Regions from separate parts of the Homo sapiens genome. Here regions 1 and 3 are each linked to region 2. Evidence: fine-mapped expression QTL. A gene starts in region 2. Each other region holds a variant in brackets. All regions are shown on one strand. Distances are between the middles of the regions.

Region 1 (10,043 bases), 50 kb before region 2:
GAGGCCGAGGTGGGTGGATCACCTGAGGACAGAAGTTCGAGACCAGCCTGGCCAACATGGCGAAACCCTGTCTCTACCAAAAATACAAAAATCAGCTGGGCGTGGTGGCGGGTGCCTGTAGTCCCAGCTACTCAGGAGGCTGAGGCAGGAGAATTGCTTGAACCCGGGAGGCAGAGGTTACAGTGAGCCGAGATCATGACACTGCACTCTAGCCTGGGTGACAGAATGAGACTCCATCTCAAACAAAAATAATAATTAAAAAGAAAGAAAAAAAGAAAGAGGCCAGATACAAGGAGTACCCCATGTGTGATTCACTCTTAAAAGATGGTAGTATAAGGCAGTCTTCTGGGGTGGTAGTGATTTTCTGTTTCTTGAGCTGGATTATCATATGGGTATATTTACTTCATGGAAATTCATTGAGCTGTGCAGTTAAGACTTGTCCACTTTTCTGTATGTTATTCTTCAGTAAAACATTTACCATGAAGAGTGAGGCACATGTGCTATAATAAACGGGAAAGAATATGAAAATCAACTGTCTCAATAAAAAATTTACAACTGATATTGCACTATAATTATGTAAGACCTGACCATTAGGAGAAACTGGGTGAAGGGTACAGAGAACCTCTCTGCACTAATTTTTCAACCTCCTGTGAATCTATAATTATTTCCAAATGTAAAAATACTATTAACACTGATATTTTAGTGTGTGAACCCCAATTAGATTTTCTTTTCTTTTTTCTTTTTTTTTTTTTTTTGAGATGAAGTCTGGCTCTGTTGCCCAGGCTGGAGTGCAGTGGCACAATCTTGGCTCACTGCAACCTCCACCTCCCAGGTTCAAGTGATTCTCCTGCCTCAGCCTCCCAAGTAGCTGGGACTAAAGGCACATGCCACCACGCCCAGCTAATTTTTTGTATTTTTAGTAGAGATGGGGTTTCACTGTGTTAGCCAGGATCGTCTTGATCTCCTGACTTTGTGATCCACCTGCCTTGGCCTCCCAAAGTGCTGGGATTACAGACGTGAGCCACCATGCCCAGCCTAGATTTTCTTTCTTTTTTTTTTTTTTTTTGGAAACGGAGCCTCACTCTGTCTTCTGTTGCCCCAGCTGGAGTGCAGTGGCGCCATCTCGGCCACTGCAACCTCCGTCTCATGGGTTCAAGTGATTCTCTTGCCTCAGCCTCCCGAGTAGCTGGGATTACAGGCACATGCCACCACGCCCAGCTAATTTTTCTATTTTTAGTAGAGACAGGGTTTCACCATGTTGGTCAGGCTGGTCTCGAACTCCTGACCTCGTGATCCGCCCACCTCGGCCTCCCAAAGTGCTGGGATTACAGGCATGAGCCACCGTGCCTGGCCCCAGCCTAGATTTTCTACTTATATCCTCCTTCTAAAAGTTTCCCTTTCCTGCCTACTCCTCAGAATTGAAGTGAAAATCATCATTTTCAATAGAGGTTGTCCCAAATATAGATGACAGTTGATAAGTCCTGGGATGGACATCTGCCCCAATGTGGGCCGGTTGGAGCCTTTTCCTGAGACATGGCATTTGGACTGAGAAACAGCCATTTCTTTTCCTGTGTCCACACTGTAATTTGTAAACTGAAGAGCTGCCAGCAGCTATTTTCCACCTTGTGGTTCAGGGAAGCAGAAGAACCTGATGGACAGAGAGAAGGTGGAATGATGCTGATGTACAAAGGGAGGAGGACACATGAGACAGAGTCTCTTTGACATTCACCTTCCTGGCTCCTTATGTCCAGTTCAATTTGTGTCCTTGGGTTCTGTGAGACCCTTTATGTGTTTAAAATACATTCACCTCATTATCTAAGCAAGATCCATTCAGATTTCTATTACTTCCAACCATAATCCTAACTAGCACACCTACTACAAAGATGCACAGTTTTTGTCCTACGGCTTACACTTAGAATATGCCTTTTTTTTTAATTTAAGAAGTATGACGCCAGGAGCAGTGGCTTAAGCCTATAATTCTAGCACTTTGGTAGGCAGAGATAGGAGGATTGCTTGAGTCCAGGAGTTTGAGATCAGCGCCAGGAGCAGTGGCTTAAGCCTATAATTCTAGCACTTTGGTAGGCAGAGATAGGAGGATTGCTTGAGTCCAGGAGTTTGAGATCAGCCTGGGCAACAAGGAGACATCATCTCTTAAAAAAAAAAAATTAGCTGGCATGCACCTGTGGTCCCCACTACTTGGTAGGCTGAGGTGGGAGGATCGCTTGAGCCTGGGAGGTTGAGGCTGCAGTGAGCCATGATTGTACCACTGCACTCCAGCCTGGTGACAGAGTGAGACCCTGTCTCAAAAGACAAACAAACAAACATAATGAAGTATGACTTTACTGTATGTAAGATACAGATTGGCACTCCTGCATAGTACGATCACAGAAGATATACTAAAGATCATTTAACCCACCCCTCTTATTTTCAGGTGAGAAAACTGCAGGTTAAGGGCCTTAGCCAAAGTCATACAGCCAGCTGCTAGAAGTATCAGACTCAGCATCGTGTCACCTTTCCCACGTCAATATTACACGGTCAGTCCTGGAGAGAAACATCAGGATGCTCCACTGAGGGTTTTATTTGTTTGCATATAGTATACTAACTGCATAATGAGTTAATCAGAACATAGCTAACAAGGACCTACTTGAGAGATCAAATGAATAAGAGATAATGTATAGGGATATAAATAGTTATAATTATAGGTACTTAATTCTAAAAACAATCTTTAACTTTTGTCACTATTAGTCATGGAGGTATTCCATGTGTCACTTAGAACAGATATACATAGTCTATTGAGAGTTAAAAAAAAACAATTTGAGGACAGATTACTCCAACATTTTAATTCAAATAGTATCTAGAATTGAGAAAAAAATTAAGACTATATTCAACAGGATGTAAATACTAAGTTTGACGTAAACTTCCTGAGAAGTGGAGGTTTGCTCGGAAACTTCCTGCTTGGTCATAACAGAGAGCTGGAACACATCAGTTTACCTCTCTTGATCTGGTCTGATACTGTTGGTTTAAAATGCTGATTTGGGATTATTCTTAGCCAAAGTAGCCAAAGCACAGCATTGTGTTGACTGTATTTTGGGAGGTAATTATAAGGTGGGAAAGAAGTATTACCTAGTTTTTAAATAAAAAGGAGTCTAATGAACATGTGACTTCCCGGAAAGCAAAGCACAGAATAGAAAATGTGTAATTTACAGCTTTCAGTTTTCTGTTCTCTTTATTGAAGTAGCTGTTCCTATCACTGCCAGCCCTTTGGCCATCCAAAGTTGCAGCTGTCTACTTTTTTTTTTTTTTTTTTTTTTTTTTTTGTTAAGACAAGGTCTCGCTCTGTCACCCAGGCTGGAGTGGATATGGATGTCCTATACCTAATCAATCTCCAGCTACTGGACGTTTAGGTGGTTTCCAATTTACTACCATTATAAAACAACACTGTAGTAAACCATCATACAGAAATCATTTTGCAAATATCCGATTATTTTCTTAAGTTTTTAGAAACTGAACTGTTTAGTCAAGGTATTTAAACATTTTTAAGGCCTTTGTGACACTGCTGTCAGCAACAGATGAGGATTTCCTATTCTGATGGGTGGAACTTTTCTAGGGGTGGTAATATCTCTTACGTGAAGTCTTGTTTTGTTTTGAAGATGCAGGAAGTTATATAACAGAGACTTTCCTTGCTGGCACACTGTACCAGGAAGGAGACACAGCACTCTATCCACCCTACTTGGCCAGTTTGGTATTTGAATGGAAAGGGCAAGTTTGTTTTTGAGGTGGTGTGTCACACTTGTGTCATGTGAGACACAATATGTAGATCAAAGAGGAGAAAAACCTTTGGGCAATTCTATTAGTCTTCAGTGTGCTTTTGCTAAATATCTTCAATTAAGCAATCTATTACAGATGGATGGTACTGGTTTTTCTTCCCTGAATCCTCCCCTCTTCAAAGGTGATAACTAATTTCATTATTTTCATTAAATATCCATAGACTGAAAGATCAGGTTCTCAAAGATAGTTTCTTTAATTGTAAACTGTCTAATTTTTACTAAAACAAATAAAAAGAAAACCAAGTGGTATTAACTTTGATTTGAGTATATGTGTGATGAGGGTTAATCCTTTCCTGTTTTAATGTGTATGATACGAAGTGTATCTGCCTCAATTTTTATTTATTTATTTTTTGAGACAGAGTCTTGCTCTGTCGTCCAGGCTGGAATGCAGTGGTGCAATCTCGGCTCACTGCAATCTCCGCCCTTGGTTCAAGTGATTCTCCTGCCTCAGCCTCCTGAGTAGCAGGGATTACAGGTGTGTGCCACCATGCCAGGCTAATTTTTGTATTTTTAGTAGAGATAGGGTTTTGTCATGTTGGCCAGGCTCGTCTCAAACTCCTGACCTCAGGTGATCCGCCCACCTTGGCCTCCCAAAGTGCTGGGATTATAGGGGTGAGCTACCATGCCTGGCCCTGTCTCAAATTTTAGTGCAGTGCAATCTATCACTAAGAAATTTCAGGCCGGGCGCGGTGGCTCACGCCTGTAATCCCAGCACTTTGGGAGGCCGAGGCGGGCGGATCACGAGGTCAGGAGATCGAGACCATCCTGGCTAACACGGTGAAACCCCACCTCTACTAAAAATACAAAAAATTAGCTGGGCGTGGTGGCGGGCGCCTGTAGTCCCAGCTACTGGGGAGGCTGAGGCAGGAGAATGGCGTGAACCCGGGAGGTGGAGCTTGCAGTGAGCCCAGATCGCGCCACTGCACTCCAGCCTGGGTGACAGCGAGACTCCGTCTCAAAAAAAAAAAAAAAAAAAAAAAAAAAAAAAAAGAAATTTCAAAGCTGTTATTTAAGATGTTAATTATATAATATACAAATATCACGGTTGTGTGGTTTAACCTGTTAAGACATGCTTAGAAAAGAGAACGTGAGTATACTGACTTTATTACAAGCCTATATTGGAAGATATATGGTAATACATAGGTATGTATAACTCCCTGATAACAATAGGTTATGCATTATTTAAAAACATAATGTCAAACAGCATTACAGTTGGTAATTTATTTAAAGACTACAAGCTTGCTTGTCTGTTCACTACTGCATTTCTATCCTGAACATTTCTGGATATATTACTATATATCAGGTTTATATACTTTTACTATAGGTATATAAATATTTGCTGAATGAATAAAATAGGAAGATAATTTTAAAAGGTAAAAAATGGCATTTAATTTATAAAACATAATAAACAAAAGTTCTAAATCGTATTAAGTTCTAAAACAAACCAGATTTGTCAACATAATTCCAAGTTTAATTCCAAACTTAAAAATGGTAGCATGTAATATCAGTTCACTGAATATTGTAATTAGATATTAAAAGTTCAGATATGAGTAGTAAAGGCAGAGTGGGACTTGTAATACCAGGGTCAAAGGTAGTGCTTGGGGTCTGACTAAATATTTGAAAAAGGACATCAACCTGTGTGG[G/A]CAGGTGTTTATGAAGGATGAGAAAGAAGGCAACTTCTTTTTTTCTCTGGTTCTGTGGGCTTCTCTTTAACTTTTGTTTTTTCACTCTTTATCATCCAAAACTAAAGGATTCATGAACTTTGAAGGATCTGAGCAATCGATCTTTGTAAATAGGTAACTTGACACAGTCTTAGGGGAATTAATGATAGTGTATGATAGACTTAATGGAAGCTTAGAAAACACTCTTTTTTTGGTTAACTACCATAGGCACTCTATTTATTTATTTATTTACTAAAGGCTAGCCAAGTGAAGCAGTGGGAGTAGAGAAAGAACAAAGAAATCTGGAACTGGTTGTGATTAATTAGTCATAAACCACTGCACTCGGACCAGCCCATATGCACTCTTTAAAACTTAAAACTTTTTACCAAAATCTTAAATATCAGAACAAGTCAGAAAGCTTGTTTTTTTTAAACCTTGTTTTTATTATGAAATGTATTACACATAACAAAAACTTCATAAAACATATATATAGATTTAAAAAATAATAAAGAAACATTTATGTACTCACCAGCTTAAGAATAATTTTTTGGGTGGGCACAGGGGCTCATGCCTGTAATCTCAGCACTTTGGGAGGCTGAGACTGGAGGATCACTTGAGCCCTGGAGTTTGAGACCAGCCCAGGCAACAGAGACCCCATCTTCACAAAAAATAAAAAATTAGGCTGGGCATGGTGGCTCACGCCTGTAATCCCAGCTCTTTGGGAGGCTGCGGTGGGTGGATCACAAGGTCAAGAGATAGAGGCCAACATGGCGAAACGCTGTCTCTGCTAAAAATACAAAAATTAGCTGGGCGTGGTGGTGTGTACCTGTAATTCCAGCTACTCAGGAGGCTGAGGTAGGAGAATCACTTGAACTCAGGAGGCAGAGGTTGCAGGGAGCTAAGATCGTGTCACTAAACTCCAGCCAGGTGACAGAGTGAGACTGTCTCAAAAAAAAAAAAAAAAAAGAAAGAAAAAGAAAAAGAAAATTAGCCAAGTGTGGTGGCTCACACCTGTAATCCTAGCACTTTGGGAGGCTGGGGTGGGCAAACTGCTCGAGCCCAGGAGTTTGAGACCAGCCTGGGCAACTTCGTGAAACTCTGTTTCTACAAAAAAAATTTAAAAATTAGCTGGGCGGCCGGGCGCCGTGGCTCACATCTGTAATCCCAGCACTTTGGGAGGCCGAGGCAGGTGGATCACGAGGTCAGGAGATCGAGACCATCCTGGCTAACACGGTGAAACCCCGTCTCTACTAAATATACAAAAATTAGCTGGGCGTAGTGGCAGGCGCCTGTATTCCCAGCTACTCGGGAGGCTGAGGCAGGAGAATGGCGTGAGCCCAGCGGGTGGAGCTTGCAGTGAACCGAGATGGAGCCACTGTACTCCACTCTGGGCGACAGAGCGACACTCCGTCTCAAAAAAAAAAAAAAAAAAAAAAATTAGCTGGGCATCGTGGTGTGCACCTGCAGTCCCAGCTATTCCGGAGGCTGAGGCTGCAGTGAGACATGATTGTGCCGCTGCACTCCAGCCTGGGCAATAGAGTAAGACCCTCTATCAAAAAAAAAAAAAAAAAAAAAGAAGAAGAAGAAGAAGAATTTCTTAAATTAACTATCTATGAGAATTGTCAGGTTGACTGTCGTTTTCCAGCTGAGTTTCACAAAATGGGGCCTGCTTAATAAAACAGATTGATACATTCAAATCCACAGGCTCTGGTAATTTGTACTAACGAATACTTATTTCTAGAATTGACCAGAGTTATCACAGAACTAGGAGTGTATTATTTTACAGAATAGTGGAGAACTAATTAAGTACCTATGACTTGTAAAAATAGAAGCTCATGGTTTTTAAATGGAAAAGTCTGACTGGAAACTACAGTCCTTTAATATTAATTTCTAAACTCAGAAGTGAGATTATGATACAATCGGTTGGCAACTATCTAAGTTTTTCCTAGGCAATACCTCCCGTGGCTGGGTAAAGAATATATCTTCTCACATGCATATTAATTTCTTTGAGTGAAATCTGAGTTAGGTGTAAGTTAATATTTATCAAACAGAATCTATATTAGTTATCTCTTGCTGTATGAAAAATTACCCCCAAACTTGGTGCCTTAAAGCAATAAACAATTATTTTCTTACAGAGTCTATGAGTAAGGAAGCTAGGCAAAGCTTAGTTGGGTCTCTTGGCTCTGGGTTTCTCATAAGGCTGTATAAAAGGTGTTGAGCGGGTGCTGCAGTCATCTTAAGGCTTGACTAGGTGTTGATGTTGGTAGGACTTAGTCCCTATCAGGGTGTTGCACTCAGGGCCTCCGTTCCTCACTGGCTGTTGACTAGAGGCTACCCTCCGTTTTTCTGCCATATGGACCTATCCTTTGGATTGTGACCTATCCTTTGGAAATTGCAACATGGCAATTTCCTACATTGGAATGAGCAAGTGAGAGCGCAAGAGAGAGAGGAAGATGAAAGTCACAGTCTTTTGTAACCTAATCTCAGATGTGACATTCTGTCACTTTGCCATATTCTATTCTTTTGAAAGAGGTCATTAGGTCCGGCCCAAGCACAAGAGGAGGAAATTACACAAGGATGTGAAAACCAGAAGGTACGGTGCTTAGGAGTCATTTTAGATGCAGCCTACCACAGTAACTCAGAAAGAAGGAAATACAAAAAGTAAAAATGCTTCAACAACAAGTGCTACTAAAAAAAAAAAAAAAAAAAAAAAAAAAGAATAGGCCGGGCACGGTGGCTCACGCCTGTAATCCTAGCACTTTGGGAGGCCGAGGTGGGCGGATCACGAGGTCAAGAGATCGAGACCATCCTGGCTAACACGGAGAAACCCTGTTTCTACTAAAAATTAAAAAAAAATTAGCTGGGCGTGGTGGCGGGTGCCGGTAGTCCCAGCTACTCGGGAGGCTGAGGCAGGAGAATGGCGTGAACCCGGGAGGCGGAGCTTGCAGCGAGCAGAGATCGCGCCACTGCACTCCAGCCTGGGAGACAGAGCGAGACTCCGTCTCAAAAAAAAAAAAAAAAAAAAAAAAAAAAAAAAAAAAAAAAGAATAGAAAAAGGAAAAAAAGTAAAAATGCTAACTCAGCTAAGCATCGTAATTAAAGAATATCTTTTGTATGCAGAGATGGCATTATTGATGATGATTCCTTTGGGATAGGTGGTCGGGAATAGAAAGACTGCTAATTGAAGTAAGAATACTTTTCACAAAAACAAAGATGGTTCTATGATTTATAGCCATTGTTCACCACTTGTAGAGTTCCTTGCTGTTTTTTACTTTACAAACAATTTTTATAGTGAAGCAAACATTAAACATGAATCAGCAAAGTGGTACTGTGATTTACAACTCAAAAACAATTCTGGGATACACCAATCAATCAGTAAGAATTTACTGAGCACCTACATATGCTAGAAAGTTACTGATACTAGAAAAGTATAAAACAGTATCTGCCCTCAACCTGCCCTCAAGTCTGTGGCAGGTATCGAAAATCTATGCAATAGGAATTAACCCTTTACTAGGGTATTGTATCAGATCCTGGGCTCTAAATTCAAGAGATGAAGAAAATGGGAAAAAATCCAGAGGCATGATTAACCAAAGGATTAAAAATTAGAAAACACAAAATAGCAACAACAACAACAACAAAAATTAGAAAACAGAATTTATGTGGAAAGTTTAAAGGCACATTGCTTATTTAACCTGAGGAAGGTGAAAGTTGCTTTAGTAATCATCTTTAAGTTTATGAATAGTTACACAGGAGATGGAAATAAATGTTTGTGCCCTCAATGAGAAATCTACAGGGCTGGGTGTGGTGGCTTGTGCCTGTAATCCCAGCACTTTGGGAGGCCGAGGCAGGCAGATCACCTGAGGTCAGGAGTTCGAGACCAGCCTGACCAACATGGAGAAACCCTGTCTCTACTAAAAATACAAAAAATTAACCGGGCGTGGTGATGCTTGCCTGTAATCCCAGCTACTCAGGAGAATCGCTTGAACCCGGGAGGCAGAGGTTGCGGTGAGCTGAGATTGAGCCATTGCACTCCAGCCTGAGCAACAAGAGCAAAACTCTGTCTCAATAAATAAATAAATAAATAGTTCTGAAGTCCCTTCTAAGTTCAGTTAAGTTCCACATACTAGATAGAGGCAGGAAAATGTGAAAAAAAAAAAGTTTTTATTAAAAAAAAGAGACATCTACAAGAGAATTGGATTTCTAATATAGTATATACATTAAAAAGTCTTAGAATACATATATTAAGAGAAAATTGTTTAGGAAGGCTCAATGACTTTTTTTTTCTTTAGGGCTTCTTTACAAAACGTTTCCTCACTGTTTTGACAATATCATGAAAAAAATTCAGTTTAGAATCTAGAACTGACCTGGATGGGATTCACAGGGACTGCACAGTCCCTGATTCCTCCCCGACGGTGGGAGCTTAGCTACTAGAAACAGGAACTCAGTTGGTGTCTCGAGTCAGACAAGAAAGGGGAGGCCAGGCCAGAGGCGCCACGGAACTCCCCTTAGTTCTGAATGACAACTTTTAAACCTGCAAGGTCTTTGCTCTGGAGGG
Region 2 (10,043 bases):
ACTGCACACAGCCATGTTGTCTAGTTTTAATAAACTCTTATGAAACTCAAAACCAAAGCCATACTCAACATCTAGCGTTGTCTTTTGTTATTCCATCAAATGGTATAAAAATTCAAGAAGAGTTATAATTTAAATTAAAAGTCTAGGCAAATGTCATGCAAGACATTATTTAAATGACTTAATGCCAGAGGTTTAAAAATTTATTTAAAAATTATAGGAGAGGCCAGGCACAGTGGCTCAGGCCTGTAATCCCAGCACTTTGGGAGGCCGAGATGGGCGTATCACCTGAGGTCAGGAATTCGAGACCAGCCTGGCCAACATGGTGAAACCCCACTTCTACTAAAAATATAAAAATCAGCCGGACTTGGTGGCATGTGCCAGTAATCCCAGCTACTCAGGAGGCTGCACTCCAGCCTGGGCAACAGAGCGAGACTCCGTCTCAAAAAAAAAAAAAAAAAAAAAACAAATTTCCCCAGGCAAAAGGAAATCTAATTAGGAAAATGAAAAATGGTTGTTTAGAAGAATATTTTGTGCTGTACTTAGACCACTTCATAAAAAGGTATACTAAGAGTTTCAGTTTGGGAAGACAAGAGTTCTGGAGATTAATAGTGATATTTACAAAACAACGTGAACATATTTAATGCCACTTAACTATACAGTAAAAAATGGTCAAAATGGTCTGGCCGTGGTGGCTCACGCCTGTAATCCCAGCACTTTGGGAGGCTGAGGTGGGCAGATCACGAGGTCAGGTGCTCGAGACCAGCTTGGCCAACATGGTGAAACCCCATCTCTACTAAAAATACAAAAATTAGCCAGGTGTGGTGCACGCCTGTAATCCCAGCTACTCAGAAGGTTGAGGCAGGAGAATCGCTTGAACCTGGGAGGCAGAGGTTGCAGTGAGCCGAGATTGTGCCATTGCACTCTAGCCTGGGCAAAGAGCAAGACTCTGTCTGAAGGAAAAAAAAAAAGGTCAAAATGGTAAATTTTATTTTATACATATTTTACCACAATAAAGAAGGTATACTAATACACTACTTTTTTTAAGGATTATAAATAACCATACTCCTTTATTTTAAGTTCAGTGATACTCTCACTTCTTAAAATTTTTTTTAATTTTTAATTTTTTTTTTTTTTTGAGACAGGTTCTCACTATGTTGCCCAGGCTGGTCTCACATTCCTGAGCTTAGGCAATTCACCTACCTCGGCCTCCCAAAGTGCTACGATTACAGGAGTGGGCCACATGCCCGGCCTCACTTCTTAAAATATTCGGGTTAATAAACATTCTTCAGAAACTCAAGTTATTTTTTAAATTGTTTAACAAATTGCTTGAGCTTCCTCACTACAGGATCTGCTGAAGAGAGGCACAAGAAGTACCTTTAGATCAGGTACGATGGCTCACACCTGTAATCCCAGCACTTTGGGAAGCCAAGGTGGGAGTATCTCTTGAGGCCAGGAGTTTGAGACCAGCCTGGGCAACATAGTGAGACACTGTCTCTACAGGAAATTTAAAAAAGCTGGGTGTGGTGGTTTGCACCATAGTCCAGCTACTCAGGTACTCAGGATGCTGAGGTAGGAGGACTGCTTGAGCCCAGGAGGTCAAAGCTGCAGTGGGCTATAACAGTGTCACGGCACACCAGCCTCCAGCCTGGGTGACAGAGTGAGACCCTTTCTTTAAAAACAACAAAAAGTACCTTTAAAAAAAGTAAAAATAGGGCCGAGCGCGGTGGCTCACGCTTGTAATCCCAGCACTTCGGAAGACCGAGGCGGGCAGATCACGAGGTCAGGAGATTGAGACCATCCTGGCTAACACGGTGAAACCCCGTCTCCACTAAAAATACAAAAAAATTAGCCAGGCGTGGTGGCACGTGCCTGTAGTTTCAGCTACTCAGGAGGCTGAGGCAGGAGAATCGCTTGAACCCAGGAAGCGGAGGTTGCGGTGAGCCAAGATCGTGCCATTGCACTCCAGCCTGGGCGACAGCAAGACTCTGACTCAAAAAAAAAAAAAAAAAGTAAAAATATATTCTTTAGCCAGTGATATTGGCTCTTGTTTACAAAATTATCCAAAACGTTCTTTCAAGTCTTCCTGATTTTGAAAAATAGAGTCTCAACTGATATCTCTAAAATTTGAGGCTGGGTACAGTGGCTCATGCCTGTAATTTGAACACTTTAGGAGGTTGAGGTGGGAGGATCCCTTGAGGCCAAGAGTGTGAGGCTGTAGTGAGCTATGATGGTGCCACTGCACTCCAGCCTGGGTGACAAAGACCCTATCTCAAAAACAAACAAAACACAGGAAAAAAAAAATCAAAATTTAGATTGCAAATGGCTCCACAAAACAAATCTTGAGGGCAAAGATGTTTTAGTAATTTTACAATTGCCAGCTCTAGGCAGTATGTGACATCTTTCTAGGCACTCAGTGCTTTTAGAATAAATGACCTTGTGCTGAGGAATGTGAAAAAAAAGATGTAAATCGGTGCTGTTTTATTGACAAATGGGATATGAAGAATGAAATGTGCGGCCGAGCACGGTGGCTCACGCCTGTAATCCCAGCACTTTGGAAGGCGGAGGCGGGCAGATCACGAGGTCAGCAGATCCAGACCATCCTGGCCAACACGGTGAAACCCCCTCTCTACTAAAAATACAAAAAATTAGCCGGGCGTGGTGGCGGGCGCCTGTAGTCCCAGCTACTCGGGAGGCTGAGGCAGGAGAATGGCGTGAACCCGGGAGGCGGAGCTTGCAGTGAGCCAAGATTGCGCCACTGCACTCCAGCCTGGGGGACAGAGCGAGACTCCGTCTCAAAAACAAAAACAAAAACAAAAAAGAAATGTGCAACATAGGGTTTAGATGAAGTGACAGGAGACTCAGCATATTATGGAAATTATTATCTTGATTTTGTGTATATAGAAATAAAGCTGTATCCGGCTGGGTGCGGTGGCTCATGCCAGTAATCCAGCACTTTGGGAGGACGAGGAGGGCAGATCACGAGGTCAGGAGTTCAAGACCAGCCTAGCCAACATAGTAAAACCCCGTCTCTACTAAAAATACCAAAATTAGCTGGACGCGGTGGTTCGTGCCTGTAATCCCAGCTACTCCAGGGGCAGGAGAATCACTTGAATCCAGAAGGCAGAGGTTGCAATGAGCTAAGATCGTGCTACTGCACTCCAGCCTGGCGACAGACTGAGAATCCGTCTCAATAAATAAATAAATAAACAAAGCTGTGTATCTGGTTTTCTATACTTTCCAGGTCAAATCTCACTAGCAGATGTTCCTGTTATCTTCAGTTTGACATCTTATCTAAAATGACTCCTAAAATGTGTAATAATGTTAATTATAATATCTAAACCTACTGACTCTAACATCACAAAGAATTTTAAGAGGTCGAGGTTAAAAATCTAAAATTGTAAGTCATCAGCTAACAATGACATTTCAAGTCATGAGCTTGGATAAAAATAACCATGGAAATCACCATTCAGCAAAATACAGGCATAGTGGCCAGGCGTGGTGGCTCACGCCTGCAATCCCAGCACTCTGGGAGGCCCAGGCAGGAAGATCACCTGAGGTCAGCAGTTTGGGACCAGCCTGGGAAACATGGTGAAACTCCGTCTCTACTACAAATACAAAAATGAGCCGGGCGTGGTGGCGGACGCCTGTAATCCCAGCCACTCAAAATCGCTCGAATCAGGGAGGTGGAGGTTGCAGTGAGCTGGATGGCGCCACTGCAGCCCCGCCTGGGCAACAAGAGTGAAACTCTGTCTCAAAAAATAAATACACACACATACACACACACACACACACACACACACACACACACACACACACTCTCGCATACAGGCATAGGATAGTTTGCTATAGTTAACAAACATAAGAATATCCTATTTTCTTGAGCTTTCATCAGGCTTTACTTTGCCAGAATACATCTATCCCATTTTTCAGTAACTAGATCTAGCTACCACATTTCCTCAGTTTTAACGTGTGTGTTTAAAGAGACAGGGTCTTGCGTCGCTCAGGCTGGAGTGAAGCAGCGGGATCAAAGCTCACTGCAGCCTTTTTCTGTCTATAAATCTTCAACACTTGGCTGCGCTGCAATCTCTCTGAGCCTGCCCGATTCGTGAATCATTCTTTGCTCAAAATGTTAAATTTAACTTGGCTAAGGTTTTTCGTTTAACACTTCCTACTAACGCTACAGCCTAAAACCTCTCCTGCAAAATGCTTTTTCAGGTGGCAACGTACCAATTCTAACAAGTTTGTGGGAGTAATGGGGAGGAGGGCTAACCCTCTATTTTCTTTCAGAAAAAGGGTTAGGCACAAGGAGCTCTAAAGGCTTGTCCGAAGTCTGCTGAAAACTCACAAACCACTCAGAACCAGGTTTCCCACACCCAATTAATTCCAAGTGGTACTGTATCCGATTACCCCCATTTTCCAAGAGATAGTTTATTTTTTCCCCTCTTTTCCCCTCCCCACTACACTTTCCACTTAGCCCTTTTTGAACTGCAAAATAACCTCTCAACTCCCCTCACCAGACCATTCTCTACAGAGCAAATTCATCTACGAGATCCAAGACGCAACTCCCACCGCCAGGCGGTCGCCTCAGAAGGGTAAGCAGAAAGCATGCCCACTTGGCCACTTTTACAACTTATTTCTGCTCAGAAATGCACCAACTCAACTACCCGGTAGATAAGGCACCAGCTAGCAGAGACCTCTTGCTCATTTCCTCTTGTACCTTATAAAATGCCCGCTTTTTTGCTCCAAAGACGAAGCGGGCTGGCTTCAGAAATAAAATCCCTCTTCTTGTATACTAGGGCTCGCTCTTGTTAATTGGTGTCTACGTGTGGCGAGCAACTAACTCTCTTTTCCGTTAGAGCACTCAAAGCCCTGGTCAATCTACCCCCCAAGACAGCAGAGACCAGCACAACGATCCCAAGGAAGGCTGTTGGCTTCACCCCGCTTAAGTCCTCAAAGTCAGCGCCTGCAGCATATCCTTGCCCCCACCACCTGCCTCTAGCTCTGGTCACTTACACTTACGGTTAGTTCGCATCCACTGTAACAGCGCCTGGCGGTCGGCAGGAGCCACAGTGCGAAGCGGCCGCAGCATCACTGCCTGCCTCGCAGTGGGAAATTTTACCTTGCTGGAGCAAGCCGCGCAGGCACTGGCTGGCATTGCGCATGCGCAAGCAGAGACCGCCCCACCCTCCGCGGAACAAGCCTCCGGTCTGCAAAGCCCTAAGCCCCGCCCCTCTACGGAGGTCTCACGTGCGCCTGGGGATCCCTGCCTTCAGTCACACCTCTATCTCTCATCTTTCCGCTCTTAGCTGGGAGTGCTCCGCCTAGTCACTTTTCTTAAGGTGGCTCGTCGAGGCCTGACTTCTTCCCCGAAATCACGTCCCTAGACAGCCTCCTATTTTACCACTAACTTTACTCCTGCAGTTATTCAGCGGTAGGAAACTGAAACCAAAAACCAGTGTAAGCAAGTAAACATCTAAACTGTTTCAGGAGCCGCGTAGAAGGAACGCGGCGGTGTGCCCCGGAAGCGGAAGTAGATTCTCCTATAGAAAGGCTGGACTACGCGGAGTGGTGACGTTTCCTCATTGGGCGGAAGGTTCGCTGGCACTCCGTTGGTCTTCCAGCTGGTGGGAGTTGACGACGTGGTGCTGGGCGTTGGGACCCTACTTTATCTAGTTCGGGAAGTTGGGTTGTGGGGTCATACCTGTCTGTCTGCTCCCAGCTTTCTTGGGTTTCTTCCGACGGCGTGGGGCCTCGCTAAGGAATTCCCGGCCCCTCAGGGCCACGGCTTTAGCGGTGTCTTTTGCGGTAAGTGTCTGCTTTTTCCCGCCCCAGACTACGGAGGGGGAGCGAGGGGCAGCCCCAGCGCTGCTCAGGAGGCGAGAGACTCCGGGGGAAGTCGGCCTCCGTGGCCACCGGCCATCGTTACCGAGACTGAGTTTCTGTGGCTCTTTATCTCGTCTTCCATGAGAAGTTTTATTAAAGATGCGCTGTGCCCCTTTTGAGTTGTCTTCCGATTTACCTGAGCCAAATAAGATGTAGGCAGTTGCAGGCCTGAGTCTTCGTTTTGCTTTCCTGAGCAAGAATTTAGATGAAGCTACTTCCCCGAAAATCCTTTTACTTGTACGAGACTTTTATTTTTCCTATGTGTTTGTAGTGCTTAACACAATGTCCTGCGTGTAGTAGACGTTCAATAAACGAATATGGAATATCAGTTGAATGCCAATGATGATTTAAGATAGACTGATAGCTCTCTCTGTACCATTTGACGCTGCTGACCATCCATTTCTTGAAACTTTCCCCTGCTGCCTTTCTTCATGCTATCCTCACCTGATTCTTTCACATGCTTAATTTAACAAAATATATACTTGTTCTTGGCTACAAGGATACAGAAATGAATAACACTAACTCTGCCATTGAGAAGCTAACGCACATAAATACACATTATATCAAGATGGGTAATGAGAAACACTAGTTGCATATAAAGAGCTGTAGAAAGCTGTGGGAGAGCTAAAGTGCTCCTTAGGTGCTTTGTGACCCTGAGCCAGTTTCTATTCCAATCTAGCCTCAATTTCCTCATCTACTTAATAGGCTTGTTTTGAGGAAGAAAGGAGATTAGGTAAGAGGTTTGGTTTGGTTTAGTGCCTAGAATACAGCAATCGTGGTGCCAAAGGGGAGGGAAATATTTCCCTCAAATCGCTTTTTCTCAGTTTTTTGATATGGCCAACTGGTATTTTCTACCTTAATATAGAGTACTATGCAAAAGCATCTTCAAGTCTTCCTTCCAGATTACTCCTCTGTCCCCATCTATTTGGAAATTCTGGACCTGCCACAGGATTACAGTAAGATAACCATAAATGTAGCTTTTTAAAAATTGATTTTCTCCTATGTGCCATGGAGAAAGGGAAAGGGAATTAGTAAAAGCTCCTATCTCTTTGGTTATTTTCAGTCTTGGTTAACGCCGTCCTTTTAGTTGGCCCTCAGTCATTGCTATAACCCAAATGGTCTTCCACAGGCTCTCCTCGAGGCTTCTCGCTTGCTTCCATGGCATTGTCCCTATATGCCAACCATGTCCAAACCTTATTCTTTTCATTTCCAAACCTTGTTCTTTTCCAAACCTTATTTGCTCTGTCGCCCAGACTGGAGTACCGAGGCACCATCTCGGCTCACTGCAACCTCCGCCTCCCAGGTTCAAGCAATTCTCCTGCCTCAGCCTTCCGAGTAGCTGGGATTACAGGTGCCTGCCACCACGCCCAGCTAATTTTTGTGTTTTTAGTAGAGATGGGGTTCCACCATGTTGGCCAGGTTGGTCTTGAACTCCTGACCTGAAGTGATCCGCCTGCTTCGGCCTCCCAAAGTGCTGGGATTACAGGTGTGAGCCACCATGCCCTGCCTAAACCTTATTCTTTAGCCTCCATCTCATGAGTTGATAGTTCTGTACTTTCCCCTAAAACTTGCAAACTCATTAGGTCCAAAACCAAATGCACTGTCTTCACCTTCCTTTTTTTTTTTTTTTTCACTATGACATATGTCATGCATACGAAAGTGTATAAAAGCAGTGATTGTCAGTGCGTTTTTGAGTTTTGACCTCTGGTTGAATTTTGTGATACAAGTAGGTTAAATTTTTAAAAGGATTATAAGGGCTGTGAGCAATGGCTCACGCCTGTAATCCCAATACTTTGGGAGGCTGAGGCTGGCAGATTGCTTTAGCTCAAGAGTTCGAGACCAGCTTGGGTAACATGGCGAAACTCCCTGTCTCAACAAAAGAGACAAAAATTAGCCAGGCTTAGTGGCGCCGCCTGTAGTCCCAGCTAGTTGGAGGGATAATGAAATGAACATCTATGTACACATCCTTCATAAAAAGTGAAACATTAAAAATAATACATTAAGTCCCTTTGACCTCTTCTCTATTAACTCCTCTGACTTTCAAACCACCTTCCCTTTTTGCCTTCCATTCATTGGTTAATGGCATCACTAGCCATCTGGTTATAAAAACTAGAGATATTGGAATCATTTTTGCCTCTTTTTTCCTTCACTTGCCATAACCATTTGGTCATTAGATTCTGCTTCATGAATTAGCCCTTAACCCTAGTTTCTTTTTCTCTAGTTCAAGGCCACATCTTGTCTCAACTAGCCTTATGGAGTATGGGTAGTGCATGTAGTGTCCTGGCTCTTCAGTTTTTTCCCTCCAATGTATTTGTTACACTGTATCTAAAGATGTTTCTAAGGTATAGAACAGATTTCTCATTCTGTTGTTTTCTTTGGGACATGTTATTAAATACTTAATATAGTGATTATGAACCCTTGCTGCACATCAATATAGCTAGTGAAAGTTTTCAAAACATAAATGTCTTGTTTTGCACTCCAGATTAAGAATTTAGATGAAGCTACTCCCCCTAAAACTTTTTTACCTTACTATCTCTGGAGAGTCTGATTGAGCATTTAATTTTTACTGATAGGCATTATCTAAATGTCATTGAAATAACGCATTGCTTGAGCATATGCCTCTTATCCCTCCTTTTCCTTTTTTATTTTTCACTTTTCCTTTTTCTTTTCAATGTTAAGGCCAACTTTCCAAGGAATTCTTTTGATTTTCGTTTTAATTTTCTTCTTGGTAGCATTTTATGTAAAGATTCTTTTTATGGTTGACCTCATAGCCAGAAAGTATCGTAAAGAAATGATTCCCAGTGTTCCTGAGTTATTACCTCTTGTTGCTAATTGACTTTTTTTTTGGTATACCTTTTTTGCTGCAAAAGTACGAATTGGTGCTGTGATATTATTTTACATAAAATGAGTTTTAAAATTTGAAAAACAATTACTTTAATGAAGAGAAAGTTGCTTGATACTTCTTGATATAATTGAATATAATCTTTGGTGCTAAGTTAAGACAGAGGTGGTATGATGCATAATTTATCTTTTGAAGGGAGTCTTGTGTTAAACTGTTATATTTGATTAGGAATTAGAACTTCTCTCATGCTGGGACAATTTCTGGAGTACATAGTAGGTGTTTAATGAATGAGTAAATGAATACAAGTGGCAGCTCCATCCCAACCTCTAGTCTGTTGACTAGTTGCACTCTAATTCTCACAAGGAACGCTTTGGAAAATAATTTTCCCTTGACTTAAAAAATAGTGTTCTCAGTCATTACTAAAAAATTGGAAATTAGAAAAAGATATAAGAAAATAAAAATTGCTGGTCGTGGTGGCTCACGCCTGTAATCCCAGCACTTTGGGAGGCTGAGGCGGGTGGATCATGATGTCAGGAGTTCAAGACCAGCCTGGCCAAGATAGTGAAAACCCATCTCTACTACAAATATAAAAAATTAGCTGGGTGTGGTGGCAGGCACCTGTAATCCCAGCTACTTGGGAGGCCAAGGCAGGAGAATCGCTTGAACTCGGAGGGCAGAGGTTGCAGTGAGCCGAGATTGTGCCACTGCACTCCAGTGGGCACAGAGTGAGACTCTGTCTCAAAAAAAAAAAATTGCTAGTTATTCATCATCCAGAGATAACAAATGTTATTTTAACAGTTTATTAAAATATAATTCTTGGCTGGGTGCGGTGGCTTAAGCCTGTCCCAACACTTTGGGAGGCCAAGGCAGGCAGATCACAAGGTCAGGAGATCCAGAGCATCCTGGCTAACAAGGTGAAACCCCATCTCTACTAAAAATACAAAAAATTAGCCGAGCATGGTGGCACTCCATGTAGTCCCAGCTACACGGGAGGCTGAGGCAGGAGAATCGCTTGAATCCAGAAGGCAGATATTGCAGTGAGCCGAGATCTTGCCACTGCACTCTAGCCTGGGTGACAGAGAGACACTACATCTGAAAAAAAAAAAAAAAAATATATATATATATGTGTGTGTGTGTGTGTATATATATATACACACACACACACACATAATTCTTAGTTCACCTAAAGTGTACAATTGAAAGGATTATAGTGTATTTACAAAGTTACGCAACTATCACCATAATCAATTTTCGTACATTTTTATTATCCCATGAAGAAACCCCATACCTATTAGCAATCATTCCCTATTTTACTCCA
Region 3 (10,043 bases), 340 kb after region 2:
AGGTTGCAGTGAGCCAAGATTGTGCCACTGCACTCCAGCCTGGGCGACAGGGTCAGACTCCATCTCAAAAAAAAAAAAAAAAAAGAGAAAGGAAATATATGTTCAACATGGAGCACTCTCTGGCTGGTAGACTATTCATAGAATTATAACTTTATTTTCATGAACTTCTGAATCTGAACACTTTAATATGCTTAAAATTTCTTCATGAATTTTTATCTTTGAGCTGACATAAATTTCAGTTATACTACATATAAATGTATTTTGACGGCTGGGCAAGGTGGCTCACGCCTGTAATCCCAGCACTTTGGGAGGCTGAGGCAGGCGGGTCACGAGGTCAGGAGTTCCAGACCAGCCTGTCCAATATGGTGAAACCCCATCTCTACTAAAAATAGAAAAATTAGCTGGGCATAGTGGCACATGCCTGTAGTCCCAGCTACTCAGGAGGCTGAGGCAGAAGAATCGTTTGAACCTGGGAGGCAGAGCTTGCAGTGAGCCGAGATCACGCCACTGCACTCCAGCCTGGGTGACAGAGCAAGACTCTGTCTCAAAAAAAATAAAAAATAAATGCATTTTGACATAGAAGCTAAATAGAATACTTTATAGTTTAGCTTTATTTATGTTATTCAATTGAAATATTTTCTATCTTAGCTGCAACTAAAGAATTTTATTTTCAAGATACAATTCTAAATCTGATGTCAAAGTAAACATTTTTGTGTATAGGTGAAGGTGGTATAATATCTGGGAATTCCTTCAAAATAATCTGAGGGAAGATAAGTGTGTGTATAGATTTTTTAAAGATTGGTTTATAAATTGATAATTGTTAAAGTAGGTTGATAGGTATATGGGAGTTTATTATACTATCCCACTTTTACGTGTGTTTGAAAAAATTTTTTTTAAATCGTTGTTTTTTTCCCCCTTTTGCCTTCTAGGATTCTTACAGAAGCAGAGATTGATGCTCACCTTGTTGCTCTAGCAGAGAGAGACTAAACATTGTCGTTAGTTTACCAGATCCGTGATGCCACTTACCTGTGTGTTTGGTAACAACAAACCAACATCATGGAGGTCCCTGGATTGAAAAAGGAGCCTCTCCCACTCCTCCTACCACCGAAGTGGTTAGGACTCTATATAAATAAAAACAAGGCTTTTGGAAAATAATTGCATCCTGTTGTTTTCACCTCCTATTTTAAAATTTATTTTTGACACCTAATGTACATATTTATGGGGTGCAATGTGATGTTTCGATACATGTATACATTATAATGATCAAATTAGGGTGATTAGCATATCCATCACCTGAAACACGGTGTTTTTGTGGTGAGAACATTTAAAATCCTCTCCTCTAGCTATTTTGAGGTACACAATACCTTATTAGTTTTTTGTTTTTTAAAACAAGATCTTGCTCTATTGCCCAAGCTAGAGTGCAGTGCCATGATTATGGCTCACTGCAGCCTTGAACTCCCTTGTTAAGTAATCCTCTCACCTCAGCCTCCTTAGTAGCTGGTACTACAGGTGTACACCATTGTACCCAGCTAATTTTATTATTTTTTTGTAGAGTTGGGGTCTTACTATGTTGCGTGGGCTGGTCTCAGACTCCTGGCTAGCATTAAGCGATCCTTCTGCCTCAGTCTCCCAACATGCTGGGGTTACAGGCATGAGCCACAGTGCCTGGGTCCACAGTACCTTACTGTTGACTGTAGTCACTCTGCTGTGCAATAGGATACCAAATCTTACTCCTTTTTTCTCTTTTTTGAGACAGGTACTTGATCTCACCCAGGCTGGAGTGCAGTGGCAGGCGTGCTCATAGCTCACTGCAACCTTAAATACCTGGGGTTAAGCAGTCCTCCCACCTTAGCCTCCCAAGTAGCTAAGACTACAGACATGCATCACCAGGCCTGGCTAATTTTTTATCTTTTAAAATATTGACATAGGGGTCTCCCTATGTCACCCAGGCTAGTCTTAAACTCCTGGCCTCGAACAGTCCTATCTCAGGCTCCCAAAGTGCTGGGATTACAGGTGTAAGTCACTGCACTGGGCCCCTCCTGTCTAATTGTAACTTTTTAGCTGTTCACCACCTTCTCCCCATCCCTCCCACTACCACCTCCAGTCCCTGGTAACCACTGTTCTATGTACTATTCACTACTTATAGATCAACGTTTTTAGACTTGGCATGTAAGTGAAAATGTGGCATTTGTCTTTCTGTATCTGGCTTATTTTCACTTAATGTATTGTCCTCTAGGTTCATTCATGTTATAAATAACAGGATTTCATTCTTTTTAATAGCTGAATAGTGTTCCTTTGTGTATATATATCACATTTTCTTTATCCATTCATTCACTTTGAACACTTAAGTCAGTTATATCTTGGCTATTGTGTATAGTCCTGCAATAAACATGGGATTGCAGATACCTCTTCAACATACGGATTTCACTTCCTTTGAATACATACCAAGGAGTGCAGTTGTTGGGTCATAGAGTAATTCTGTTTAATTTTTTTAGGAACGTTCATACTGTTTTCCATAATGGCTGTACTCATGTACATTTCCCTTAATTGTAAGGGTTCCCTTTTCTCTGCATCCTCAACACTTCTTATGTTTTGTCTTTTTGATAATAGTTATTCTAACTAGTGAGGTGATGTCTCATTGTGGTTTGCCTCCAATTTTAAGTATTAAGCCTTTGGTATATGCAGACAAATATTCACCATCTTCACATTGTAGCTTTAGTCATTTTGTTGACACTGGTACAAGTTTACTTGGCTTAAGACATTTCATAGCCAGCACCAGGCGTGCTGGCTCACACCTGTAACCCCAACACTTCGGGAGGCTTAGCCGGGCAGATCACTTGAGCTCAGGAGTTCAAGACCAGCCTGGGCAACAAGGTGAAACCCTGTCTCTACCAAAAATATAAAAACTTAGCATGCACATCTGTGGTCCCAGCTACTTAGGACACTGAGGAGGGAGAATTGCTTGAGCTCGGGGGATAGAGGTTGCAGTAAGCAGAGATTGTGCCACTGCACTCCAGCCTGGGTGACAGAAATGCCATCTTAAAAAAAAAAAAAAAAGCCAGAAATGTAAACTAGCTATATGGTATAATTAAATAACAAACTACAACTTTGGTTTTGAAACCCACTCTGGCCGGGCGCTGTGGCTCACACCTATAATCCCAGCACTTTGGGAGGCTGAAGTGAGAGGATTGCTTGAGGCCGGGAGTTTGTGATGAGCCTGGACTACATAGCAAGACCTCGTCTCTACAAAAAATTTTTAATTAGCTGGGCATGGTAGCCTGCACCTGTAGTCCCAGCTACTCAGGAGGCTAAGGCAAGAGGATCACTTGAGCCCAGGAGTCTGATGCTGCAGTGAGTTGTGATTGTGCCACTGCACTTAAGCTTGGGTGACAGAGTAAGACCCGGTCTCCAAAAAGAAATCCACCCTGACCGTAAGTTGGCATGTGAGGAAAGGCCTTTATTTTACAATTTCTCATTCAAACAAGATACTACTGAATGTGGACTCCAAGTCCCACTGAATGCTTTAACTATAATAAAAGGATTAGTATGATCTTCCATAGTTTTGAGAAAAGCATTTATACTCATTAAGAACCAGTATTTTCAAGGGTAGAAATTTTAGTTACCTTCAGGAAACAGGGCTAGAAAAGTCATAGAATGTGTGTAGTTTCTGTGCCTCCTTAATAATAAGTACTTGAAGATAACATTAAGGAATTGGTTTATATTAAAGTTTAGAGACCCAGCATCACAATGTTCAGGAAGAAAGAACAAACTGTATATTCATGGTAACTTTTTTTTTTTTTTGAGACAGAGTCTTGCTCTATCGTCCAGGCTAGAGTGCAGTGGCGTGATCTTGGCTCACTGCAACTTCCACCTCCCGGGATCAAGTGACTCTACTGCCTCAGCCTCCTGAGTAGCTGGGATTACAGGCACCTGGCACCATGCCCGGCTAATTATTATTATTATTATTATTATTTTTGTATTTTTAGTAGAGACGGGGTTTCACCATGTTGGCCAGGCTGGTCTCGAACTCCTGACCTCGTGATCCACCTGGCTCGGCCTCCCAAAGTGCTGGGATTACAGCTGTAAGCCACCGCACTCAGCTGTAGCCTATGTTTTTTTTAATGTACAGGATTTTTTAAAGTCCCTAGACTGGTGACCTGAACCACTAATTAGAGATGATTAAAAAATCTTGGAAAGTCTAAGGGTAATACATTTTGTGTCCTCTTTTGCACAGAGGAAGTCTGGTGCTGTTGACCTCATGCAGGTGAGTGTGGCTGCTGGTCTCATGCCAGTCCCTGAAATTAGAGTTGCCCCTGTTTCTGCAGCCACCAGGGCCACACAAGGGGAGGCCACATAAACATATGACCAGTAGAAGCAGGAAACTTCACCAACCACATCCTCTTCAGAGCTGTCAGGAATAGTAAAATTTCCTAACAAGGAAGCAGGGTTCTTCCTTGTTCTTCCAGGTTGTTCTAGGATTACCCATCCTAATCCACTAGGCTCTTTGAAAGTGCTGCCATCGTTTCGAAAGTGGGGTCTATGTAAAAGGGCTAATCCTCTAAAGACAAGCTGAATTTCCACACCCTTAGAGCCTTGACTGATGTCACCCTCCTAGAATCAGTGGATGAGAGACTAGCAACTAATTCAGTTTTACTGTTAGGGGCTCCTTTTCAGAGGTGAAAAACTAAAATTCTGTAATTTGTTAGAAAGTAAGTTTTTACATTATAAGGCAAAATCTAGATGAATTAGGATTAAATATAGAATAGTTTTAAATATTGGTTGTTTATGCTTAATTAAAAGAATGAGAAGAAATAGATCATTTTAAATAGGTGAACATTAGGCTGGGTACAGTAGCTCATGCCTATAGTCCCCAATACACTGGGAGCCCAAGACCAGTGTGGCAACATTTTGTCTCTACAGAAAAATTTAAAATTAGGTCAA[T/G]TGTGGTGGTGCACACACACCTGGAGTCCTAGCTACTTGGGAGGCTTAAGTGGGAGGGTCACTTGAGCCCAGGAATTCAAGGCTGTAGTAAACTATGATCACAACACTGTACTCCAGGCTGGGTGGCAAAGCAAGACCCTTTCTCTAATAATGAAAATAAAAGGGTGGACATTAAATACTCTAATTCTGGCTGGGCGCAGTGGCTCATGCCTGTAATCCCAGCACTTTGGGAGGCTGAGGCAGGCAGATCACCTGAGATCGGGAGTTCAAAAGCAGCCTGACCAACATGGCGAAACCCTGTCTATACTAAAAAAAAATTAGCCGGGCATGGTGGCACATGCCTGTAATCCCAGCTACTCGGGAGGCTGAGGCAGGAGAATCGCTTGAACCTGGGAGGTGGAGGTTGCAGTGAGCCAAGATCATGCCATTGCACCCCAGCCTGGGCAACAAGAGTGAAACTCTGTCTCAATCAATCTGTTTCTTGTTTTGTTTTCTAAACAAACTACCTGGAATGGATAACAAAGGGTTAATGCAGAAAGGTTATACAAAATGCCAAGAAAAATGCCTGAAATCTTTAAATATCTTTACTCAAAGAACATTTTGATTAGTAAGAAATACACATACCAGGCACAGTGGCTCACGCCTGTAATCCCAGCACTTTGGGAGGCCCAGGCAGGCGGATCACTTCAGGTCAGGAGTTCAAGACCAGCCTGGCCAACATGGCGAAACCCAGTATCTACAAAAATACAAAAATTAGCCAGATGTGGTGGCGTGCACCTGTAATTCCAGCTACTCAGGAGGCTGCGGCAGGAGAATCACTTGAACCCGGGAGGCCAAGGTTGCAGTGAGCTGAGATCGGACCACTGTACTCCAGCCTGGGCAACAGAGTGAGACTCCATCTAAAAATCAATCAATAAATATAAGAATACAGATATGAGGCCAAACACAGTGGCTTATGCCTGTAATCCTGGCACTGGGAGGCCAAGGGGGGTGGATCACTTGAGGTCAGAAGCTCGAGACCAGCCTGGCCAACTTGGTAAAACCCCATCTCTACTAAAAAATACAAAAATTAGCTGGGCATGGGGGCGCACACCTGTAGTCCCAGCTACTTAGGGGGCTGAGGCAGGAGAATCGTTTGAACCCGGGAGGCAGAGGTTGCAGTGAGCCGAGATCCCGCCACTGCACTTCAGCCTAGGCAAGAGAGCTAGACTGTCTCAAAAAAAAATACAGATATGATTTTTTAAATATGAGAAATATAATAATTCTGACACTCAGAGGATATGTCCAGACATTCATGAACGTGAAGCTATTTGGGTAGACATGAGGCTTTCCTTCTCTTGATACCTCATTTTTCATAAGCAGTTACTGTACCATTTAGGTTACAAGTCAGCAACAAACCAGGTACTCAGCTCCCTCACTAGCCTCCAAATCCAAGATCCAGATTTGTGACACAACCAAATTATTACATTAAGGATCTTCACGTAGGGGCACACACCTGTAGTCTAGCTACTCAGGAGGCTGAGGTGAGAGGATCACTTGAGCCCAAGAGGTCGAGGCTATAGTAAGCTGTGGTCACGCCACTGCACTCCAGTCTGGGGGACAGAATGAGACACCTGTCTCAAAAAAACAAACAAAAATCTAAAATGACAGCTAAGCTAATTAACATCATAATGGTGAATTAGTTTAAATTTTTTTATTTTTATTTATTTTTATTCTTTGAGACGGAGTCTCCTTCTGTCACCCAGGTTGGAGTGGAGGGGCACGATCTCGGCTCGCTGCAACCTCCGCTCCCAGGTTCAAGTGATTCTCTTGCCTCAGCCTCCTGAGTAGCTGGGATTACAGGCGCGTGCCACCACGCCCAGCTAATTTTTGTATTTTTAATAGAGACGAGGTTTCACCATGTTGGTCAGGCTGGTCTCCAACTCCTAACCTCGTGATCCACCTGCCTCGGCCTCCCAAAGTTCTGGGATTACAGGCGTGAGCCACCACGCCAAGCCTGTTTTATTTTTGTAGAGGCAGGGTCTCGCCATGTTGCCCAGACTGGTGTCCAACTCCTGGGCTCAAGCCATCCTCCTGCCTCAGCTTCCCAGTGTTGGAATTACAGGCGGGATTACAGCCACCATACCTGGCTCCAAGATGGCTTCTAACTCCATTTATTTTACATTCTGGAAATTCCAGCTGATACAATAAGAAATGAAATTAAGAGGTATTGGAATGGAGATAGAATTATAATCTACTATTTAGATTATTTACCTAAAAAAATAAGAAAGTGACCTAATAAAGTATTAGTCTTTATTGGGACAGGCCCTGTTTTAGATACAATATCCTTTAAACTGGTTTAAGTTGAACATTTATAATTTGCTTGTCTACAGTTCCAAAATTCAGGAAGTTCTTAAAACTCAACTGGCTTTTTATATCTCACTTTATTTCTGCAGAAATATGAATGTGCTTAATTATAGGGTGCTGCCCCAGACTCCAGTGGTAGAGTTATGGAATATATGGTTTAGACATCATATTACCACTCTAAAATCCAAAATACATTATATTCCGAACGCATCTGTGCCAGGCGTGGTGGCTCATGCTTATAATCCTCGCTGGGGAGGCCGAGGTGGGCAGATTGCCTGAGCTCAGGAGTTCGAGACCAGCTTGGGTAACATAGCAAAACCCCGTCTCTATTAAAAATACAAAAAAAAATTAGGCGTGGTGGCGCACGCCTGTAGTCCCAGGTACTCGGGAGGCTGAGGCACAAGAATCGCTTGAACCTGGGAGGCAGAGGTTGCAGTGAGCCAAGATTGCACCACTGCACTCCAGCCTGGGCCACAGAGTGAGACTCTGTTTAAAAAGAAAGAAAGAAAGAAAAGAACCTGGCCCCATGCCTTTTGGATAAAGAATAATAGACTTATACTATTATTATTCCCCTGTTGCGGGTAAAAACAAACAAACAAAAACGAAAACAAAAACTGAGTCCAAGTTAAGTAATTTGGCCAGGATCACACAACTACAATGTGTCAATGACAGGACTAGAACACACAATAGTCTGACTTCAAGATGCATCTTTGTCAGGATGTTAGACGAAATCTACAGTCACTTTTTCTCAGATTGCCCCCTTCCCAACCATCCCAAAAATGTATAAAAAGTAAATACCTTTCCTATATACCAGGAATAAATGTTTAGAAAATTATGTAAGTACAGCACAATAGCAACAAAAATATAGATAGGAATCGTTCTAACTGGAAATATTGACCCATGTGAAGGAAAGTAAAAAACTTGACTGCGAGACCTCCTGCTGCTAGATGGAAGTGCTGACTATTGTAAAGTCAGTTCTTTTCCAAACTAATGTGTAGACTTAAAGTCATTCTAGTCAAAATACTAAAAAAAAAAAAATGTGTTTTTAAAACTTAGAATTGCCAAGCAACAGACCTTAGCATATATAAGAATTTAATATATGATAAAATTAGCACCACGTATCAATGGGAAAATAATTCTAGGGAGAAAATAACTATGTAGGAAAAAATATTCTTTGTCTTACATCTTACAACAAAATAAAATCTAAGAGGCTTCACAAGGTAATTAAAAATATATATATATTTAAAAAGAGCTAGAAGAAGGAAAAAGAGACAGAAAATAAAATAGTTTAGTTGAAAAACAGATCTCCACATGGAGATCCACTTTCTAAAGAACAACAATGCACTTTGGGAGGCCGAGGTGGGCAGATCAGCTGAGAACAGGAGTTCGAGACCAGCCTTGAAACCCCGTCTCTACTAAAAATACAAAAAATTAGCCAGGCCTTATGGTGGACACCTGTAATCCCAGCTACTCAAAAGGCTGAGGGAGGAGAATCGCTTGAATCTGGGAGGAAGAGGTTGCAGTGAGCCAAGATTGCACCATTGCACTCCAATCTGGGTGACAACAGCAAAACTCCATCTCAAAAAATAAATAAATGATAAAAAATAAAATAACAATGGATAAAAATCATGAAGGGAAAACATCTATATATTTCACTACTTAAAAATGTAAAATTTTGTTAATAAGACCCCATAAACAAAGTTCAAATAGGAGAAAATATTAACACATAAATAGAAAAATATAACAACAACAGACAAGTCACGAAAATTTTCTAGTCTAAACCTAAAAACTCAATAATTTTAAAATGAAAATTACAAGATAACATATTTTCTATCAAATTACTAAGACTTTTACATTAATAGCACATAATATACTTGGTATATTGCAAGTGTTTCATAAGTATTTGTTGTATGAAGGAGTGATGAAGTATATTAAAAGTTAGCTACTCCAGGCCATGCTCAGTGGCTCACGCTTGTAATCCCAGCACTTTGGGAGGCCAAGGCGAGCAGATCACTAGATCAGGAGTTCAAGACCAGCCTGGCCAATATGATGAAATCCCCATCTCTACTAAAAAATAAAAAATAGCTGGGTGTGGTGGCATGTGCCTGTAGTCCCAGCTACTCAGGAGGCTGAGGTAGGAGAATTACTTGAACCCGGGAGGCGGAGTTTGCAGTGAGCTGAGATTGCGCTATTGCACTCCAGCCTGTGCCAGAGCAAGACTCCACCTCAAAAAAACAATTAAAGTTAGCTACTCCTTTTGCTGGTGGAAGTACAAACATCTTTCTGGAGGGCAACATGGAAATATGCATCGAGAACCAAAAAAAAAAAAAAAAGAAAGAAAGAAAAGTTACCCATTTGTAAGAATGTGTCTAAGAGAAGTAATTAGAGATGAGGAATTGTGTCAGAGTAATTTTTATATACAACAATATAATTTTATATACAATGATAAATTCCATTGCATTCAATACTGTGGAATATTATGCGGCCACTAAAACCTCTGTTTTGAAGAATATTTAATGATATGGAAAACATTTACAAATGTAATATTATGTTTAAAAAAATGGAATAAAATATGCAGTGTGATCCCTGCAGCAGACATTTTGGTACTCTGCCTTCCTCATTTCTGCCATACCATGGTGGATAGTCCTGACTCCTGCCAACGGCATCCCACCCAGAAAGTACTTTGTGCAGTTCTCTGCTTCCCTGCCTCAGGGCTTTCTCTGAAATCAGGAAAACCTGCTCAGGCTGTGCAAGCC

Which allele goes with the higher level. Positions count from the first base shown, and alleles are read on the strand shown. Sizes are in standard deviations (SD) of each study's normalised expression. Not every link is listed here.
For the expression in whole blood of the gene that starts at base 5,582 in region 2, A is the high allele of the variant in region 1 and G is the other (small effect, 0.19 SD a copy in GTEx).

What was found.
Region 1: its variant is fine-mapped to the expression of SRP54 in whole blood (TOPMed, PIP above 0.99).
Region 3: its variant is fine-mapped to the expression of SRP54 in subcutaneous fat (GTEx, PIP 0.97).

The regions. Positions count from the first base shown.
Region 1 is chr14:34,927,703-34,937,745 of GRCh38, forward strand. The region is part of intron 2 of SRP54-AS1 (SRP54 antisense RNA 1); the gene reads right to left. Among named protein-coding and RNA genes, the nearest start is that of SRP54-AS1, 50 kb to the right of the region's middle. The variant G/A (reference allele first, on the strand shown) is at 5,471.
Region 2 is chr14:34,977,411-34,987,453 of GRCh38, forward strand. SRP54 (signal recognition particle 54) reads left to right here and starts at 5,582. Exons shown (of 16, transcript NM_003136.4): 1 at 5,582-5,805. SRP54-AS1 (SRP54 antisense RNA 1) reads right to left here and starts at 5,156. Exons shown (of 5, transcript NR_151701.1): 1 at 5,014-5,156. RefSeq lists a silencer at 3,553-3,847 and enhancers at 4,733-4,782, 4,901-5,602, 4,993-5,082, 5,263-5,762, 5,793-6,052.
Region 3 is chr14:35,316,320-35,326,362 of GRCh38, forward strand. PSMA6 (proteasome 20S subunit alpha 6) reads left to right here. Exons shown (of 7, transcript NM_002791.3): 7 at 930-1,174. The coding sequence ends at 987. PRORP-PSMA6 (PRORP-PSMA6 readthrough) reads left to right here. Exons shown (of 15, transcript NR_182666.1): 15 at 930-1,152. Among named protein-coding and RNA genes, the nearest start is that of PSMA6, 29 kb to the left of the region's middle. The variant T/G (reference allele first, on the strand shown) is at 4,942.